2 separate regions of the Homo sapiens genome follow, and region 2 is linked to region 1. The links come from fine-mapping of genetic effects on gene expression. A gene starts in region 1. The other region holds a variant in brackets. All regions are shown on one strand. Distances are between the middles of the regions.

Evidence for each region. PIP is the estimated chance that this variant, and not a neighbour inherited with it, causes the effect.
Region 2: its variant is the best candidate, but not a certain one, in a credible set for the expression of MFSD8 in whole blood (TOPMed, PIP 0.63).

What each region holds. Positions count from the first base shown.
Region 1 is chr4:127,962,531-127,966,923 of GRCh38, forward strand. MFSD8 (major facilitator superfamily domain containing 8) reads right to left here and starts at 2,643. Exons shown (of 12, transcript NM_001371596.2): 1 at 2,542-2,643. The coding sequence starts at 2,603. It overlaps ABHD18 (abhydrolase domain containing 18), which reads left to right and starts at 2,876. Exons shown (of 13, transcript NM_001358451.3): 1 at 2,876-3,076. RefSeq lists silencers at 1,600-1,709, 1,820-1,949, 1,960-2,009, 3,130-3,359 and enhancers at 2,450-2,869, 2,460-3,075, 3,754-4,255, 4,256-4,393.
Region 2 is chr4:127,921,454-127,925,846 of GRCh38, forward strand. It overlaps MFSD8 (major facilitator superfamily domain containing 8), which reads right to left. Exons shown (of 12, transcript NM_001371596.2): 10 at 407-510; 11 at 71-318. Among named protein-coding and RNA genes, the nearest start is that of MFSD8, 42 kb to the right of the region's middle. The variant T/TC (reference allele first, on the strand shown) is at 2,354.

The sequences.
Region 1 (4,393 bases):
GGCTCTGAGGACATCACTCTATTAAAATTCATATCAGCATCGATATTCATTTTAATGATCTCAAGATAAAATCAAGTAAAGATAAAACTGCACTCCAGGCTCACCACTGCACTCCAGACTAGGCCACAGAGCAAGACCCCGTCTCAAAAAAAAAGTATAGCAGTGTAAAATAAATTGGTATAGAAGCAAACAGTCCCAAATGTCTCAATAGGCTCTCAGGACATCACTCTACTAAAATTCATATCAGCATCTAAACTCATTTTAATGATCTCAAGATAAAATCAAGTAAAGATAAAACTGCATTGCATAAACTCTGTTTAGTAAATCGAGGACCAGAGAAATACATTTGCCAAAGGGTTTTGAGTTAGAGTGCTCACAAAAGGTTGGTGCTTAAGGGGAACAAATGAGTAAAAATTATTATGGTCATAGACAGCTGAAGTTTAACTGAATTTATTAATTTACCTGAGGTAATTATTATGTATATTTCAAATAAAATAGTAATTCCGTTTTCCTAAAGGTAAAAATACATTAGGTATACATTCCCGAGTCACTGCCCATAAACTAGGATCAGAACAACCAGAATTATAAGGATCAAAATACTGACGTTATTCCTTTAATGCCTTAAAATTAGTCTTTCTTTGTACATTTGGCATAGGACAAAGGCGAGCTCATTTTGGACAGATTTGTTAAACTATCAAGAGGTTGTCAGGCAATTAGGCAGCAGGTCATTACTAAGACCGATACCTTCAAGTATCTATTAAAACCATCATTTTGAAACTGTGAAATCTGGAAAGTGATCAGCTACAAAGGGCCAAATATGGAATGCAGAAGATACAGAATGTGGTGGCTTTGTGTCCGGGATTGGTGGGTTCTTGGTCTCACTGACTTCAAGAATGAAGCTGCGGACCCTCGCGGTGAGTGTTAACAGCTCTTAAGGTGGCACGTCTGGAGTTTGTTCCTTCTGATGCTCAGATGTGTTCAGAGTTTCTTCCTTCTGGTGGGTTCGTGGTCTCGCTGGCTCAAGAGCGAAGCTGCAGACCTTCGTGGTGAGTGTTACAACTCTTAAGGCGGCGCGTCTGGAGTTGTTCGTTCCTCCCCGTGGTCTCGCTGGCTTCAGGAGTGAAACTGCAGACCTTCGCGGTGAGTGTTACGGCTCATAAAAGCCGTATGGTCCCAAAGAGTGAGCAGTAGCAAGATTTATCGCAAAGAGCGAAAAAACAAAGCTTCCACACTGTGGAAAGGGACCTCAGCGGGTTGCCACTACTGGTGGGCAGCCTGCTTTTATTCTCTTATCTGGCCCCACCCACATCCTGCTGATTGGTAGAGCCGAGTAGTCTGTTTTGACAGGGCGCTGATTGGTGCGTTTACAATCCCTGAGCTAGACACAAAGGTTCTCCACGTCCCCACTAGATTAACTAGATACAGAGTGTTGACAGAAAGGTTCTCCAAGGCCCCACCAGAGTAGCTAGATACAGAGTGTCGACTGGTGCATTCACAAACCCTGAGCTAGACACAGGGTGCTGATTGGTGTGTTTACAAACCTTGAGCTAGATACAGAGTGCCGATTGGTGTAGTTACAATCCCTGAGCTAGACATAAACGTTCTCCACGTCTCCACCAGACTCAGGAGCCCAGCTGGCTTCGCCCAGTGGATCCCGCACCGGGGCTGCAGGTGGAGCTGCCTGCCAGTCCCGCGCCGTGCACCCGCACTCCTCAGCCCTTGGGTGGTCGATGGGACTAGGCACCGTGGAGTAGGGAGCGGCGCTCATCGGGGAGGCTCGGGCCGCACAGGAGCCCACGGAGTGGGTGGGAGGCTCAGGCATGGCGGGCTGCAGGTCCCGAGCCCTGCCCCGCGGGAAGGCAGCTAAGGCCCGGCGAGAAATCGAGCGCAGCGCCAGTGGGCTGGCACTGCTGGGGGACCCAGCACACCCTCCGCAGCCGCTGGCCCGGGTGCTAAGCCCCTCATTGCCCGGGGCCGGCAGGGCCGGCCTGCTGCTCCCAGTGCGGGGCCCGCCAAGCCCACGCCCACTCGGAACTCCAGCTGGCCCGCAAGCGCGGCGCGCAGCCCCGGTTCCCGCTCACGCCTCTCCCACCACACCTCCCTGCAAGCTGAGGGAGCCGGCTCCCACCTTGGCCAGCCCAGAAAGGGGCTCCCACAGTGCAGCGGTGGGCTGAAGGGCTCCTCAAGTGCCGCCAAAGTGGGAGCCCAGGCAGAGGAGGCCTGGAGAGCGAGCAAGGGCTGTGAGGACTGCCAGCACGCTGTCACCTCTCAGCTTGGGTGCTGCAACAGGCAAAGCAGCAGCCTGGGTTTCTCCAGCCCCGTCACTCGAACCCACGGGCTCATCACCGCACGGTGCGGCCAGACGCCCTTTCTCCTACGTTGGGAGCGAATCTCCTCGGCTCACACAACCCAGCCACCGGCTCCCACCGCGCTGGAACCCCTCTGGCAGCGAGGGTTTGTCCCAGTGCGGGTGACGCCCGGAAAGGAACCAGTCCCAACAGCGCAGGAGACTGAGGGGTCCCTCCACCAGGATCCGCTCACCTGCTTCCAGGTGTGTCGCCTAAGAGCGGCTCCTGTTCACTTTCGTTCCGCAGGCCGGCCATAGTTACACTCCCTACAAGGCGTCTTGCGCCCAACTCTCGCGACACCTGCTTTCTCCCATCCCGGGTGGCGTGAAGCTGGCAAAACAAGCCTGTAAGTGCGCGTGCGCACCTGACGGTCAGACGTAGGCGGAACGCCCCGAGGTCATAGGCGGGGTCACGCGGAAGGCCGGGCAGCGCAGGGCGAAAGGAGGCTGTGTCCTCAGCCTCCTCCCTCGGCACGCGCCTCCCATCCTGACGGGGACTGAGAGCCCAGGAGAGCTCGGGGCGTGTCCAAACTGCCGCGCCGCCCTGCTCCGGGTTTGTCTTCCTCCCTCCGTTTCTCCTTCCGCTGTATCTAGCATTTCGGTTCCTGGAAAGGTTACCGGAGCTGCGATTGGGGCTGGGACCAAAGTTGAGTCCTGGAAAGGGAGCCTGGAGAGCGGCGGTGCTGGGAGGCCCGGCCAGCTCGATCGCAGGCTTCCACCTGGCGGCCAGTAAGTAGCCGGTCCGGTTAAGTAGTAGGTGCGCTAAGAGCTCCCCGCGCCTCTTAGCGCGCCGTGTACGCGCCTGGAGGCAGGGACCGGGGACGCGGAGCTGGGCGGGAGACTCGCGGGTCAGGGACGCGGGGTGAGGCTGGGGGTGAGAGACAAGGCTGGAGTCCGTGGCGCGCTTCGGAGGGCTGAGATAATGGGGGCGAGCGCGCGGGCAGTCCCTTCCCCCCGTGAAAGGTAGAGGTGGCTTCCAGCTCTCTTCTCTAGCTCGGCTAAATGCAAAGGCGCCTTACCTGGAGGGCTTGTCAGAGCCAGGACTGAAGGTGGGATCTGCTGCTTGTAACCTGCAGGTCCCCGGATGCGCACCCCAACGGCGCCTGCGCCTACGGGGGCCTCAGCCTTGCAAAATGTCACTCAGCAGAGCCTGCTGCTGAAACGTGGGAGTTGAAAAAGGTACAGCACCTGCCTAGCAATGACCAGCTCCTTTCGTCACAAGGAAGATGACATTTTTAGAAAACATGTCATGGGTTTTCACTAGATCTCCATGTTTATTTCTTGGTGGTTATGTATTAACATCTTATCTCTACTATTAGGCTTGTAGGCTAGCTGGCGTCAGTAGTCATTCTGTGTCTCATAAATTACCGTTTTATTAGCGCCAGATACATTGTCATGTAATTTCATTTGATCACAAGTATCCTATGAGATAGGCGAAGCAGACACATTGCTAGTTTACTGAAAATTAAGATCCAGACAAGTTAACCCAGAGTCACTCTGTGTGGAAGTGGCAAAGTTGGAAACCAAACTTAATTTTTTTAAATTAATATTTATGAGCATTTACCCTATGCTAGGTCCTATACTAGTTACACAGTCATGTATGGTATATGCCATCACTTCTGATCTTTGTGTCATTTGTGACCTTGTGTGTATCAGCCAGGCGCAGTTCACTGGTGAACACCTAAACTTGAAACGTGCGGTCTGGGTGCGATGGTTCATGCCTGTAATCCCAGCACCTTGGGAGGCCAAGGCGGGCGGATCACGAGGTCAGGAGATCGAGACCATCCTGGCTAACACGGTGAAACCCCGTCTCTACTAAAAATACAAAAAAAAAAAAAAAAAAAAAAAAAAAAAAAAAAAAGCCGGGCGTGGTGGCGGGCGCCTATAGTCCCAGCTACTCGGGAGGCTGAGGCAGGAGAATCCCTTGAACCCGGGAGGCGGAGGCTGCAGTGAGCCGAGATCACGCCACTGCACTCCAGCCTGGGCAACAGAGTGAGATTCTGTCTCAAAAAAAAAAAAAAAACCAAAAACCTTGAAACGTGCTAT
Region 2 (4,393 bases), 41 kb before region 1:
TGGCAGCAAAAAATGTTGAGTGCTTACAAGTATATTTTCTATAATTGCAATGTCAGGGTACCTGGCTTACCTGAGGTTTTGGTCCTAGAATTTTTGAATATAGAGTATAGGACATAAGATTGCAGACTGGATAGCCTAATCCTATTAGCACAGCTGATGTAAGGAACTGGGCCAGATGAATCACCGGGGTGTAGAGGCACCAGGCTTGTTCAATCGAGCAACCAGTTGGTCTTTCATTGTCATCTTCCATTGGAGACTTCCAAAGACCAATAATAATTTCCCCAAATGTGGTATTAGGGATTGAATTATTGTGCAAATCTGTAAAAACAAAACCATTGCAGTGCATTACTTGTTGATTTTAGATAAATAACAGAGGTTAACATTATAGAATTATGTATGGCTATACCTTCCCACTGTATTTTGGGAAATTGATTTCCCCAAGGTAACAAGATAAAGAAGCCAACCCATACAACGATGAGTCCTCCCAGTAGAATAGCACGCTCGCCAATCCTGTTAAAGAACAGAAACTCTGTAATTTTAAAATGAAACATTATAACATAGCTTCATTACTTTCATAATTTTAAAAACTAAAAATAATATCTTGTACTTTTAGTGATATATCCATTAAAAAGAATGCTAAATATAATTTTCCACTAAAAATAACCAGGACTCCTCTGAAAAATGGCTGACTTAAGGTCTGGGACACAAAAAGTAGATGAGCTCAGATCTTTCACAGCAAAAAGCACAGAAGTTATCAGTGACTACTAGGTCATGAGTCTTTTTGACTCAGCCAATTTGAAGAAGCTGGCCAAAAATGTGACAATGTGAGTACCAAAACAGAATAATAATGGCAATGGATTGAAACACACAAAAAGTATTATCATCTGTGGCCTGGTGTAGTGGCTCACACCTATAACCCCAGTACTTTGGGAGGCCAAAGCGGGAGGACTGCTTGATGCCAGAAGTTCAAAACCAGCCTGGGCAACATAGCAAGACCCCATCTCTACAAAAAATTTTAAAAATTAGCCAGGAGTGGTATTTGGTGCCTGTAGTTCTAGCTACTTAGGAGGTTGAGGCAGGAGGATTACTTGAGCCCAGGAGGTCAAGGCTGCAATGAGCTGTGATGGCACCACTGCACTCCAAACTGGGTGACAGAGCAAGACCCTGTCGCCAAAAAAAAAAAAAGTGTTATAATCTATGAATTCATAGTATATTAAAATAAAGTACTCTTTGGTCAGTTTTTGAGGATGTTAGGGAAACAAAAGAAAATAATCAAGCCTTTATCCTGCCTTTCCTATACAACTATAGCTCAGGTTAACCAAATAGTTGGTGAGGGAAAGATTCTCTTCATGGTAAGTATTCTAGCAAATAAATAAAGGAATGATAGAATTAAAATACCAGAATTTTGTAATGATTCATTAATGAATTAATGGATCTATGGAATAATCAGTGGCTACTTACATGTTAAGAAGAGATAAACAAAACATTATATTTCTTCTGATATAAGCACATATTCCCACCTATAAAGTATTCTTGCCAAAAAATTGAACCCAAATTTCATCAAGCTTCTAGATGCAAGTACTAGTTTTTAAGAAATACAGCAATCATGTCATCTGCAAACAGAGGCAATTTGACTTTCTCATTTCCTAATTGAATACCCTTTATTTCTTTCTCTTGCCTGATTGCCCTGGCCAGAACTTCCAACACTATGTTGAACAGGAGAGGTGAGAGAGGGTATCCTTGTCTTGTGCCGGTTTTCAAAGGGAATGCTTCCAGTTTTTGCCCATTCAGTATGATACTGGCTGTGGGTTTGTCATAAATAGCGCTTATTATTTTGAGATACGTTCCATCAATATCAGTTTATTGAGTGTTGTTAGCATGAAGGAGTGTTGAATTTTATCAAAGGCCTTTTCTGCATATATTGAGATAATCATGTGGTTTTTGTCATTGGTTCTGTTTATGAGATGGATTACATTTATTGATTTGTGTATGTTGAACCAGCCTTGCATCTCAGGGATGAAGCAGATTTGATCGTGGTGGATAAGCTTTTTGATGTGCTGCTGAATTCAGTTTTCCAGTATTTTATTTTTTATTTTTATTTATTATTATTATTATTATTATTATTATTATTATTATTATTATTTGAGACAGAGTCTTGCTCTGTCGCCCAGGCTGGTATGCAGTGGCGTGAACTTGGCTCACTGCAAACTCCGCCTCCCGGGTTCATGCCATTCTCCTGCCTCAGTCTCCTGAGTAGCTGGGACTACAGGTGCCTGCCACCACGCCTGGCTAATTTTTTTTGTATTTTTAGTAGAGATGGGGTTTCACTGTGTTGGCCAGGATGGTCTCGACC[T/TC]CTGACCTCGTGATCCACCCACTTCAGCCTCCCAAAGTGCTGAGATTACAGGCGTGAGCCACCGCACCTGGCCTGGGTTTGCCAGTATTTTATTGAGGATTTTCGCATCGATGTTCATCAGGGATATTGGCCTTAAATTTTTTTTGTTGTGTCTCTGCCAGGTTTTGGTATCAGGATGATTCTGGCCTCATAAAATGAGTTAGGGAGGAGTCCCTCTTCTTCTACGGTTTGGCATAGTTACAGAAGGAATGGAGTTTCAGAAGGAATGGAAACTTTGTACCTCCAGTAGAATTCGGCTGTGAATCTATCTGGTCCTGGGCTTTTTTTGGTTGGTAGGCTATTAATTACTGCCTCAATCTCAGAACTTATTATTGGTCAATTCAGGGATTCGACTTCTTCCTGGTTTAGTCTTGGGAGGGTGTATGTGTCCAGGAATTTATCCGTGTCTTCTAGATTTTCTATTTTATTTGCATAGAGGTGTTTATAGTATTAGAGAATACTGTGGTATTCTCTGACGGTAGTTTGTATTTCTGTGGGACCAGTGGTGCCCAAAATCTCCTTAAGCGACAAGCAACTTCAGCAAAGTCTCAGGATAAAAAATCAATGTGCAAAAATCACAAGCATTCCTATACACCAATAACAGACAAACAGAGAGCCAAATCAAGAGTGAACTGCCATTCACAATTGCTGCAAAGAGAATAAAATATCTAGGAATACAACTTACAAGGGATGTGAAGGACCTCTTCAAGGAGAACTACAAACCACTGCTAAAGGACATAAGAGAGGACACAAACAAATGGAAAAACATTCCATGCTCATGGACAGTAAGAATCAATATTGTGAAAATGGCCATACTGTCCAAAGTAACTTATGGATTCAATGCTATCCCCATCAAGCTACCATTGACTTTCTTCACAGAATTAGAAAAAAACTACTTTAAATTTCATACGGAACCAAAACAGAGCCCATATAGCCAAGACAATCCTAAGCAAAAAGAACAAAGCTGAAGACATCACAATACCTGACTTCAAACTACACTACAAGGCTACAGTAACCAAAACAGCATGATTCTTGTACCAAAACAGATATATAGACCAATGGAACAGAATAGAGGCCTCAGAAATAACACCACACATCTACAACCATCTGATCTTTGACAAACCTGACAAAAACAAGCAATAGGGAAAGGATTCCCTATTTAATAAATGGTGTTGGGAAAACTGGCTAGCCATACGCAGAAAACTGAGACTGGGCCCCTTCTTTATACCTTATACAAAAATTAATTCAAGAAAGATCAAAGACTTAAACATAGGACCTAAAACCATAAAAACCCTAGAAGAAAACCTAGGCATTACCATTCAGGACATAGGCATGGGCAAGGACTTCATGTCTAAAACACCAAAAGCAATGGCAACAAAAACCAAAATTGATAAATGGGATCTAATTAAACTAAAGAGCTTCTGCACAGCAAAATAAACTATCATCAGAGTGAACAAGCAACCTACAGAATGGGAGAAAATTTTTGCAATCTATCCATCTGATAAAGGTCTAATATCCAGAATCTACAAGGAACTTAAACAAATTTACAAGAAAAAAACAACCCCATCAAAAAGTGGGCAAAGGATATGAACAGATGCTTCTCAAAAGAAGACATTTATGCAACCAACAAACATATGAAAAAAAGCTCATCATCACTGGTCATTAGAGAAATGCATATCAAAATCACAATGAGATACCATCTCACACCAGTTAGAGTGGCAATCATTAAAAAGTCGGGGAACAACAGATGCTGGAGAGGATGTGGAGAAATAGGAACACCTTTACACTGTTGGTGGGAGTGTAAATTAGTTCAACCATTGTGGAAGACAGTGTGGCAATTCCCCAAGGATCTAGAACCAGAAATACCATTTGACCCAGCAATCCCATTACTGGGTATATACCCAAAGGATTATAAATCATTCTACTATGAAGACACATGCACATGTATGTTTATTACAGCACTATTCACAATAGTAAAGACTTGGAACCAACCCAAATGCC